Linked DNA regions of Homo sapiens: region 2 is linked to region 1. Evidence: fine-mapped expression QTL. A gene starts in region 1. The other region holds a variant in brackets. All regions are shown on one strand. Distances are between the middles of the regions.

Region 1 (5,000 bases):
CTGGGATTACAGGCATGAGCCACCACACCTGGCCAGTAGATCGTATCTCAAGGGTCGTGGTTTAATTAATACATGCAAAAACTTAAGAGCAGGGCCTGATCCATAAAAAGTGCTAGTGTTTTTTATTGTTATAAACATATTATTTGGAAATAGGAATTTGACTCTGGAAAAAAGAGCTAAAAGAAGCTAGGGTGATTGTCTCTGGTGCTAGGGAAGAGTGGGACAGGGATTACTACTTTTTAAAACTTGAAGCCTTTGCTATTTGATTTATCACGGGCACTAATTATAATACTTTCTTTTCTTTTCTTTTTTTACTTTTTTTTTTTTTTGAGACAGTCTCACTGTCATCCAGGCTGGAGTGCAGTGGCGCCATCTCGGCTCACTACAACCTCCGCCTCCCAGGCTCAAGGGATCCTGGTGCCTCAGCCTCCTGAGTAGCTGGGATTACAGGCATGGGCCATCACACCTGGATAATTTTTGTATTTTTTAGTAGAGACGGGGATTCTCCATGTTGGCCAGGCTGGTCTCGAACTCCTGGACTCAAGTGATCCACCCACCTTGGCCTCCCAAAGTGCTGGGATTACAGGCGTGAGCCATGGCACCCGGCCTAATTGTAACACTTTCATTATAATACAAAAACTGGCAACAAAGCAGGTGGACGTTGGAATGGGTTACCTTAAGAGGTAGTGAGCAAAGCACGGATGCAGCAGAGGAAATCCAAGCATCCTAGGAACTGGACAGGATGATTCTGCCTACTCTCTTGAGCAGCAATGATACTGGGAATGGGCTGAAGCCACATTGTGGGGGGCAGAGACACCCTGGGAGACAGAGAGCTCCCACCCTCACACCACCCCCCTGGGAATACCCTGGCTGGTGGGGAGCTCACACAGGGGAAGAGGGACATGACTCCTTAGCAGCCAAAGTGGAGTCGTAAGAGCAGAGCCCGTAAGTCAGAAACCCTGGGTTTAGGCCCTGGTTCTTGCCAGCAAATGATGTAACCTCTTTGGGCCTCCATTTCCCCATCTGTACATTGGAAGTGACATCTGGCAGCTCATTGTCAAGACTGAGTAAGATGCTAGACATGGGAGCCCCACACAGGAGATAAAGTGGTGACCCTATCTGAGACCCACAGGCTGTTCCCATTGGGCTGTCACAGTTCAGGGCAGTCAGTGACCCCCAACTTGGCAAGGATTCGGAACAGAGACATCCCGCAGGCAGAAGAGGCTGCCTGGAAGAGGGGAGCTGGTAAATGGGTTGGGTCACAGCAGAGATGAAACCACTGGACACGGCGTGGGGCAGACAGCCCGGGGACTCAGCCAGTCAGGCTCCTCAGCCCATCTAAGCCTATTTCCTCATCAGTAAAATAATACTTAACTCACAGGCCGAGGGAGACAGGTGAGCTACAGTATGCGGTCTATGGCCAGTACATTGTTTCTAAGTGAAAACGGACACAGTCCGCAGCTGCTCAGCCCGCATGTCCGCAGCAGCAGAAACGAGCCATCCCTCACCTCAGCCCAAGCGCTCAGACTTCTCCCTTCATCCAGGTCGTACCAAAAACTTCCTAACAAGGACTTTGCGCATGCTAGTGCTCAGAAACTTCTCACGACTCCCCAGTGCCTATGGGATAAAGACTGTGTCCTTAACCTGTCACCTAGGACAGGAACTAGGGTGAGACAAGCAAGGCCTCCAAGGCCCAACATTTGAGGCGGCACTCACGGTCACGGCAGTGCGCCTACCCCTAAGTTTTGCAATCTAGGTCCTCAACTCGAGTCCTAGACTTGCTGCAATTAAAGGCCCTTCACAATCAGTCTGCATCCTCCTGTCACTTTCTTTTACAGCCGGAAAGCTCCAGCACCACTAAACTCCTTGCCCTTCCCCACTGTTTCCCTGGATGGAACAGCCTGTCTTCCCTGGGTCCCCTACCAAGTCCTCTGAGACTCAGCTCAAGTGCCACTTCCTCCATGAAGCCCTCCAAGATGACCGCTCACTCCCACTTGGGCTCTGTCTCTCCTGATCCCTACAGGACCGTAAGCCTCTCCCACCTTCACCCTGCCTACCCCCTTACTGCCTGGCACAGCGCTGGGCATACCACAGGCGCTTAAAGAATGCCTGCTGAATGCAGTGAATGTTTCTGGTCAGTAAAACGGGACGAAGGTAGAATGGAGCTCTGCTCGCCCAACGAGATAAACCAAAAACTGAGAAGGGCTCCTCATTCATTCTCTGGACGGCAGCTTCCGCCCTTCCCCGCTGTCTCTTCCATTACATTCGCACATTCTTGGGTGCCCCAGGTCAAGCAGACAGCCTCCTGATAAATGACAGAATCAAGTCCTACTCAGGGCTGGAGGGACCCCGAGAACGCGGAGGTGGCGCCCGGAACTTGCGGATAAGTTGGGGGTCCGAGTGACGAGGTGTGTGTACCCACCGCCCTGGGGAGCTCTCCCAGCGCAGCGGCTGTCCCGGCGCCAGCCCGGGTCGCTGGAACGCGGGAAGGGAGGAAAACCCCAAACTTCGGGCGGGCGCTCCTCCCACCCGAGCAACGGCGAAGCGGGGAGGCCGAGCCCCGCTGGGCCCCAGGCTCCCCAGACAGAGAAGGAAACGCGGGGGCACCGCCGCCACGGTAGCGCGCCTCCAAGCCCCCCGCGCTCCGCTCCGCCCCGGCCAGCGCCGCACACGAGGTTCCCGCCCGGCAGCCCTAGGAGCGTCACGTGGCGGGTCCCGAGGCCCCAGCGCACAGGCGCCTAGCCCGCCCTCTCACCCCGGCGCGCGCCCACCTGGCCTGCAGGAAGGAGGCGCCCAGCTGCGCGCCTGGGCCGCCCGTCGCTCCCAGGTGCTGCCGCCTCCGCGTCGCCTCCATGGCTGCCCCGCAGGCCCCTCGGCCCTGCCTTTCCGAGGAAGAGACCGGTTCAGCTCGGCTGCCCCGGCGGAGGCCGCCGCAAATTCCCAGCGCGGGGCGGTTCGGGGCGGGCCGGCGAGAGCGCGCGGCCCTCGGGAGGAACAGGCGGGGCTGCGGACCCGGGGCGGGGCGGAGCGGAGCGGAGCGGAGCGGAGGGAGGCGGGGCGGAGGGAGACGGGGCGGGCTCCGCTAGGGGAGGGCCGGGCGCTGCGAGTGTGGCGTCCTCGCGGGGCGGGGGCTGCTGGCCTGTCCGGGCTGCGCGCGTGACCACCAGCGGGCTGGGATGTGTTAGGGTCCCTTGCCTGCCTGGGTACGGGAATCTCTGTCTAGGGTGACTGAGGCCTGGGTGTTGGGCTGGGGCGGGGTAGCGACCTGGAGATAGACTAAGCTGATTTAAATGCTCCCCGGGGCAGAGGGTTCTGTGGGATTTCCCTTGTTCTTACGGGTGGAGGAGAGGAGGCAGGACTGGAGACCTGCACGTGTAGCACCCGCGTGGTGCAGCACGTGGGTTGCAGATGTTCTAGTGAGGGGCTGGCGGTGACAGTGGGAAGGAGCGAGTTGGTGACATCTAGAGTCGTGTGAGAGGTATGGTGACTGGGACTCTGGATGTGGGGGGTGAGGGGAGAAGAGTTCAGGCAGTGGCCGGATTCTGCCCCTGGGTGGATAGTGGAGGCACCCCCCGGGAAGTGGGCTAGAGCAGATTTCGTGTAAATAAAGATTCATCTTTGAACGCATTAAGCTTGAGGTGGGTCAGGAAGGCTGTTGGACCGGTGGTCTGAAGCTGAGGCGAGACCTGGGAACCCAGTGGACAGGCTCGTGAGTCACCGGAGCATACAAGACAGACAGAACCTAAGGGGACAGCATCCTCAAGTGAAAAACAGAACCAAAGGTCAAACCTGAGAACAGCCTGCAGGGCAGATTGCCAGGACTTCATTAGTGGTACCACTTTGAACTAGCTGTGATGCGGGCAAATGGCTCAACCCCTCACAGCTTCAGTTTACTCATCTGTAACAAGAAGATGCCTATTGCATCTACTACATTGGAGTTGTGATGACTATATGAAACTCTTAGCAGAGAGCCCAGCACTGGTGGACTAAGTTATTTACAATAGCCCGTCTCGAGACCTGAGGTTTCCCTCCACAGAAAGGTTACCTTCCACACCACTGTCAATGTCACAAACTCTCTCCTCCCCACGGTCACTGTCAGCAGCCCAGGCCGCTAACTAGAACAACTGCAACCAACTCCCATTCTCCCCACCACCCCCGTGCTACACCAGGCGCACACGACATGTGCAGGTCTCCAGTCCTGTCTCCTCTCACCCAGCCCTCAAGCCGCTGCAGAAGGGATGTGCCTCTTGGAAGGGATGTGCCTCAGATGCAAATGCAATGTGCCATTCCCCTGCCCAGTATCCTTGGTCTGCTTCCCAGACCATGAGGGGTCTGAGCTATGCCTATTTCCATTCTATTTTCTTTCCTGTCTTTCTTCTTGGGAGATGTTTATTGGATTTATTTCTTTCCCCTTTGGTCAGAACCTGCATGTCCTTTCTTGGCTGTGGGAGGCTAGGACTGCCTGCCTGGGAGTCATTTTCCATCAGCCCCATCCTGGGCTCTAGCAGCCCACAGGCCACACCTCAATCCCCCCCCTCCGCCCCTGGTCCCCTGAAGAACACATTTGCTTTAAAGCTTTCCTTGTTTCATTTGATCCACACACACCAGGTCGTAAGGAGAACAGGTGATTGTCTCTGTTTTGTAGCAGAGAAAAACCTAGGCCCTGAGCTGAAGTACTGTGCCCAAGGGTCAGCCAAGGACAGCACTCAGACGGGGCCCCAGATTTAATTCTGGTGAATCTGATCTACACATCGATCTCGGTATACACCAGAGAAGAAGGATTGAGGCTTCCCGCTCTGACCCCAATTTCTTATCCTCTGCAGGCTTTGCAAGCCTGCTGGGCTCCAGAGGGAGGGGCATGCAGTGCCCATGATGTCATCATCGATTTAATAACACTCAGAGGTGGGCTTCCAGCCATCAGAGGATGAGGCCGTGTGGAGGGAGCCTCTCTAGCTCATTTAATCCTCCAATCTCTTAAATACAAACACATCTGCCTTTTT
Region 2 (5,516 bases), 210 kb before region 1:
CTCAGGGTTAGGCGGTATATCATCAGTGAGATAGTGGTGTGGGTTTTGTGATCAGTGGGACAACAGAAGAAGGAAAAAGAAAAAAAGGAGGCTGAGGTGGGAGGATTGCTTGAGCTTGGGAGGCTGAGGCTGCAGTGAACCATGATCACTCCACTGCACTCCAGCCTGAGCAACAGAGCGAGACCCAATCTCAAAAAAAAAGGAAGAAAAAGAAACTAGCTGGGCGCCATGGCTCACGCCTGTAATCCCAACACTTTGGGGGCCAAGGCGGGTGGATCACAAGATCAGGAGTTCGAGACCAGCCTGGCCAATGTGGTGAAACCCCATCTCTACTAAAAATACAAAAAAAATTAGCTGGGCATGGAGGCGAGCGCCTGTAGTCCCAGCCACTCAAGAGGCTGAGGCAGAAGAATCCCTTGAACCTGGGAGGCAGAGGTTGCAGTGAGCCGAGATCACGCCACTGCACTCCAGCCTGGGTGACAGAGCAAGATACCATCTCAAAAAAGAAAAAAAGAAAGAAACTATTAGAGCCATGAATGAATCTGACTTTGATGACTCAGAGAGCATAAGAATATGTGAAGGAAGAACTCTGTCCCATTTCTACATGACATCAAGGGATCCTCCCCCCTCGGCCTTGCTACATGCTGGGATTACAGGCGTGAGCCACCATGCCTGGCCCTTGATATTTTTTCAAGAGGTAAAGACTTGTTCCTTATAAAATCCTATATTTTATTAAACAAATAAGACTTTAATGCAGTTAATTTCATCCCCACTCTGGTCAAGGAAATATATATTATGTTTACCAGTTACTCAGCAAATGTTTCTCAAGAACTGTCTTAGGCCCAGTGAAGCCAGTCAAAGAATTATCAAGCCCATTGAGGAGGGCTTGATCATTCAGTCATCTACTTGCAGGTGGTTGGTGCAAGCTATGTTATATTTAAGCTGTATTTGGATTACCAATTTTCAGGAAATTAAGACAGAATGAAATATACTTGGCATTGAAACTATTTTGAGCCAGGCATGGTAGCTCATACCTGTAATCCAAGCACTTTAGGAGGCCATGGTGGGAAGATTGCTTGAGCCTAGGCGTTCAAGACCAGCCTGGGCAACATGACAAGATCCTGTCTCTACAAAAAAAATGTTTTTCTAATTAGCCGGGAGTGGTGGTTTGTGCCTGTAGTCCTGGTTACTCAGGAGGCTGAGGTGGGAGGATTGCTGAGCCTGGGAAGTCGAGGCTACAGTGAACTACAATCACTCCACTGCACTCCAGGCTGAGCAACAGAGTGAGAAGTCCCTGTCGAAAGAAAGAGAAAGAAAGAAAGAAAGGAGGGAGGGAGGGAAGGAAGGAAAGGAAGGAAGGAAGGGGAGAGAAAGAAAGAGAGAAAGAAAGAGAAAGAGAAAGAAAAGGAAAGAAAAGAAAGAAAAGGAAAGAAAAAACTACTAGGGCCATAAATGAATCTGTCTTTGATGACTCAGAGGGCATATTTTTTCCTTTCTTCATTTAACAAATATTAAAATACTGAATGTCCCTTATGTGTGAGGTCCTGTTCTAGAGCTTAGAAATATAACCATAAACAAGACACAGCCCCCACCTTCAATGAGGTCTCTAGTGTAGTTGGGGGAAGCCCGTAGCGGGAGAGAAGTGGGCTGATGGGCTGGTGAGTGGGGATTTCAGTGCTCAAGGAGCAGTGCATGTCAGGATTGCCTAGAGAAGGGGTGTGTTACTCAGATGTTTGGGTGGGGCATGGCCCAAGAAGGCCCTCCAGAGGAGGTGACATCTTCTTTTGAGACCAGAAGATCAGTAGGAGTTTGCAAAGGGAAAGTAGGGAGGGGAGGGTGGGACAACATGTTCCAGGTAAGGGAACAGACTGTGCACAGGCTGGGACCAGAGAGCTTAGCCTCCAGGAACGAACCACACTCAAAGGTCCAACAGGGCCTCAGGGCTGTGGTTGAAGTGCTAGTTGTTACTGTTCTTCCTGACTGTATTGCTAAACTGGGACATTTGTACATTACAGTTTATTTCTTCTCCATCATCTGCCCACCATGAGCTCTATGAGGTGGGTAGGTGTTGCACCTCCATTTCACAGACAAGGAACCTGAGGCTTGGCATTGCTGTAAGGTTCTGTGAGTATGGGGAAGTCTTGGGGAGTTGGAGGTTTTGCCTGCCTACCCTGGCCTCTGTCACTCCACAGCTGCCTTAGATGAAAGATCACTTGAAAGGGTATCTGATCTACCTTCATACCTCTGGGCAAAAAAGTGTCATTTGCTCCTCTGGGAGCTGATGGAGGTACGAAGGCATAGAATTTCTGCAATCCTGCAGCGTAATTAAACACATGGATGCTAACACAGGCAGACCTGGCCTAGCTCTGCCACTTGTTAGTAGCCGTGTGCCTTGGGCAAATTACTTAACTGAGGCTCAGCGATGCCTCCATCCAGCTGAGACTTGATCTGAGTTCTTCCCCTCTTCAGCAGCAGGGGTGGTGCAACACAGCTCCAGGGTCTCACCTAGTGCCAATATCACTGTTGGGGAGAGGGATAGTGGGGAGTGGCAACGTGCTCCTCATCAGACATGTGGTACCACTGAGACAACCGTCGGCCCTGCCCACATGGTCCCTTTGGGCCCAGTAATGCTGTTATCTTCATGTCATGTTTGGGATTCAGGCACTGTTTGTGAGTCTGCTTGTAGTCACAAGCCAGCACCGATTCCTTCCTGGGGACGTGCCACCTCTCAGGAAGCAGAACCATGCTCCCTGCTGATCAGAGACCCTCAGGCCTCTCTCTTCTTTTTCCCCACCAAGATG[C/T]TCTATTTTTGTCCCTAAACACCACCAATACCTGCAAACCAGCTTCTTCCCTTCATTCCTTAGCAAACTCCCTAATTTTCCCTCAGGCTTCTTGGGTTTCCCGCAAACAAAAGCCAGAAAGCTTTGCCTCCTTCTGCCTTCTGCTCTGCCTGAGAGCTTTTTCAAGGTTTCATAGTTCAGAGATAACTCTCTGTTTAAATGAGAGGAATGGGGAGGAGCAAATGAGGGAGGGAGGCAACCTATTAAAATCTCAGTATATAAAATCTAGCTGCATAGGCAAGAGGCAACTGAGGTTCCCAAATTCGGGAAGCAAGGGGTACATAGAAGGGGATAGATCCAAGGGATGGGCAGAAGAGAGAATCATTGACACTTATAGACCAGTTCAATGTGGGAGTCTCACCATGCATGCCTGAATTAGCACTCTGACCCAGGTCAATCAAACAAAGCAATCAGGAATTGTCATTTTAAGTTGACCTTCAGTTACCTGCAAGTAAATGAGTTGATTTACCATCTGTTGACTCCTCTCAGTCAACTGAACACGGTAGAAATAAACACGTATGTTTTAGGTTGATTGGGCTGGATGAAGGGTATAAGGGGCTTCATATGATTTTGTGTGTAAATGTTTAAATTTTTGCATATTAAAAATGTTTAAGTAAATCCATTTAAAAGCCAACTTTTATGATCCATCAACTTTTACATTATAAAAAGAAATAGTTGGCTGGGCGCGGTGGCTCACGCCTGTAATCCCAGCACTTTGGGAGGCCGAGGTGGGCGGATCACGAGGTCAGGAGATCGAGACCATCCTGGCTAACACAGGGAAACCCTGTCTCTACTAAAAATGCAAAAACAAAATTAGCCAGGCGTGGTGGCGGGCACCTGTAGTCCCAGCTACTTGGGAGGCTGAGGCAGGAGAATGGCATGAACCTGGGAGGCGTAGCTTGCAGTGAGCCAAGTTAGTGCGGCTGCACTCCAGCCTGGGGGCAACAGAGCGAGACTCTGTCTCAAAAAAAAAAAAAGAAGTAGTTGAGCTAATATTTCAGACTCAATGTGAACACTTCATGCTACTACTGAGATGTTCTCTATAACCGTTAGTTCAGATCTAATGAATGTTTGAAACTTGAGAAGATTTCTTGCTAAAGAATAAAAGAAACATGCAGCGCAAGAGAGCAAGAAATGAGGGGAAAACCCTAAGGCCATAGGAGCCATGTCTGTATTTTCTCTTTTTTTCTTTCTTTTTTTATTTTTTTGAGACAGAGTTTTACTCTTGTTGCCCAGGCTGGAGTGCAATGTTGTGATCTCCGCTCACTGCAACCTCCACCTCCTGAGTTCAAGCAATTCTCCTGCCTCAGCCTCCCGAGTAGCTGGGATTACAGTCATGCGCCACCACACTTGGCTAATTTTGTATTTTTAGTAGAGATGGGGTTTCTCCATGTTGATCAAGCTGGTCTCGAACTTCTGACCTCAGGTGATCCACCCACCTCAGCCTCCCAAAGTGCTGGGATTACAAGTGTGAGCCACCGCGCTCGGCCCATGTCTGTATTTTCTTAGAGGAGAAACTAAAGCCAGAAAGGAAAAGGAGAGTATCACAACATGAGTGAATTTGGCCTTACCCTCAGCATCCTGGATTAACAGGGAGAGCAAGGGGGCTGGAGCCTGCGGGTACAGAGCAAGAGAAGATGACCCCACCTCAAACTACGCCCCAGGGCAGCCAGCAGAAGTCAAGACACAGTGTCCAAAGAACTTGTTGTACTTGGAGTCAGACAGGAGGAAGCACCTTTGTTCTAGGTCAATTTATTCGGAACAACGCTGCAGCCAGAAGTTGGCTGTTTAGAGAACGTTGGCCAGTTCCTCAAAGGGAGAGGCTGACAAATGTAGGCAGAGTGTCCCTGTCACTGGTCCAAGGGTCAAGGGAAGTGGAGGGACAAGACAGACACAAGGCAGATGCCCAGCTCTGGTGCCTGGCTGAGTGTGGTCCTGAGGCTCTTTCCAGTTGGCAGGAAGGAAAAACAACTTCTCGTTACTTCAGCTGATGTTCAGGATACGTTGAGAAAGTGACTTGACCCCGTCTACTTTTTTTTTCTCATTTTTAATCTGTGGCTCCTGACCTCGGAATGACTTCTGTGAGACCGTAGTGTCTGGTACCTCATGGCTTTTGCTCACCGTCTTCTCAGATGGTCTCCAGGCTTCAGCTTCCCTGTCTGCTACACACTGTCTTAGGATGAGGCGCCTCTGAGGCACCTATTTGTATGCTGGAAGTTTGCTGGGGAGAACTCTCAGGATCAATGCCTGTAAGGAGAGAGGGATGAGGGCCTCAGCCAACCTTGGGGGGAATTCTGGAGTTGGGATGGCTTTTCAGAGTTGCCTCCAATGAAGGTAACGTAATCACCTGATGGGTTCTTTTTTTTTTTTTTTTTTGAGACGGAGTCTTACTCTGTTGCCCAGGCTGGAGTGCAGTGGTGCAATCTCGCCTCACTGCAAGCTCCACCTCCCAGGTTCATGCCATTCTCCTGCCTCAGCCTCCCATGTAGCTGGGACTACAGGTGCCCGCCACCATGCCCGGCTAATTTTTTTGTATTTTTAATAGAGATGGGGTTTCACCGTGTTAGCCAGGACGGTCTCAATCTCCTGACCTCGTGATCTGCCCGCCTCAGCCTCCCAAAGTGCTGGGATTACAGGCATGAGCCACCGCGCCCGGCCCCACCTGATGGGTTCTAC

What was found. PIP is the estimated chance that this variant, and not a neighbour inherited with it, causes the effect.
Region 2: its variant is the best candidate, but not a certain one, in a credible set for the expression of CLN6 in whole blood (INTERVAL, PIP 0.73).

Annotation. Positions count from the first base shown.
Region 1 is chr15:68,226,731-68,231,730 of GRCh38, forward strand. CLN6 (CLN6 transmembrane ER protein) reads right to left here and starts at 2,998. Exons shown (of 7, transcript NM_017882.3): 1 at 2,772-2,998. The coding sequence starts at 2,854. RefSeq lists enhancers at 2,283-2,352, 2,383-2,462, 3,693-3,742 and silencers at 2,503-3,092, 2,862-3,041.
Region 2 is chr15:68,017,653-68,023,168 of GRCh38, forward strand. No RefSeq gene overlaps it. Among named protein-coding and RNA genes, the nearest start is that of PIAS1, 34 kb to the right of the region's middle. RefSeq lists enhancers at 2,087-2,625, 2,626-3,163, 4,392-5,175. The variant C/T (reference allele first, on the strand shown) is at 2,802.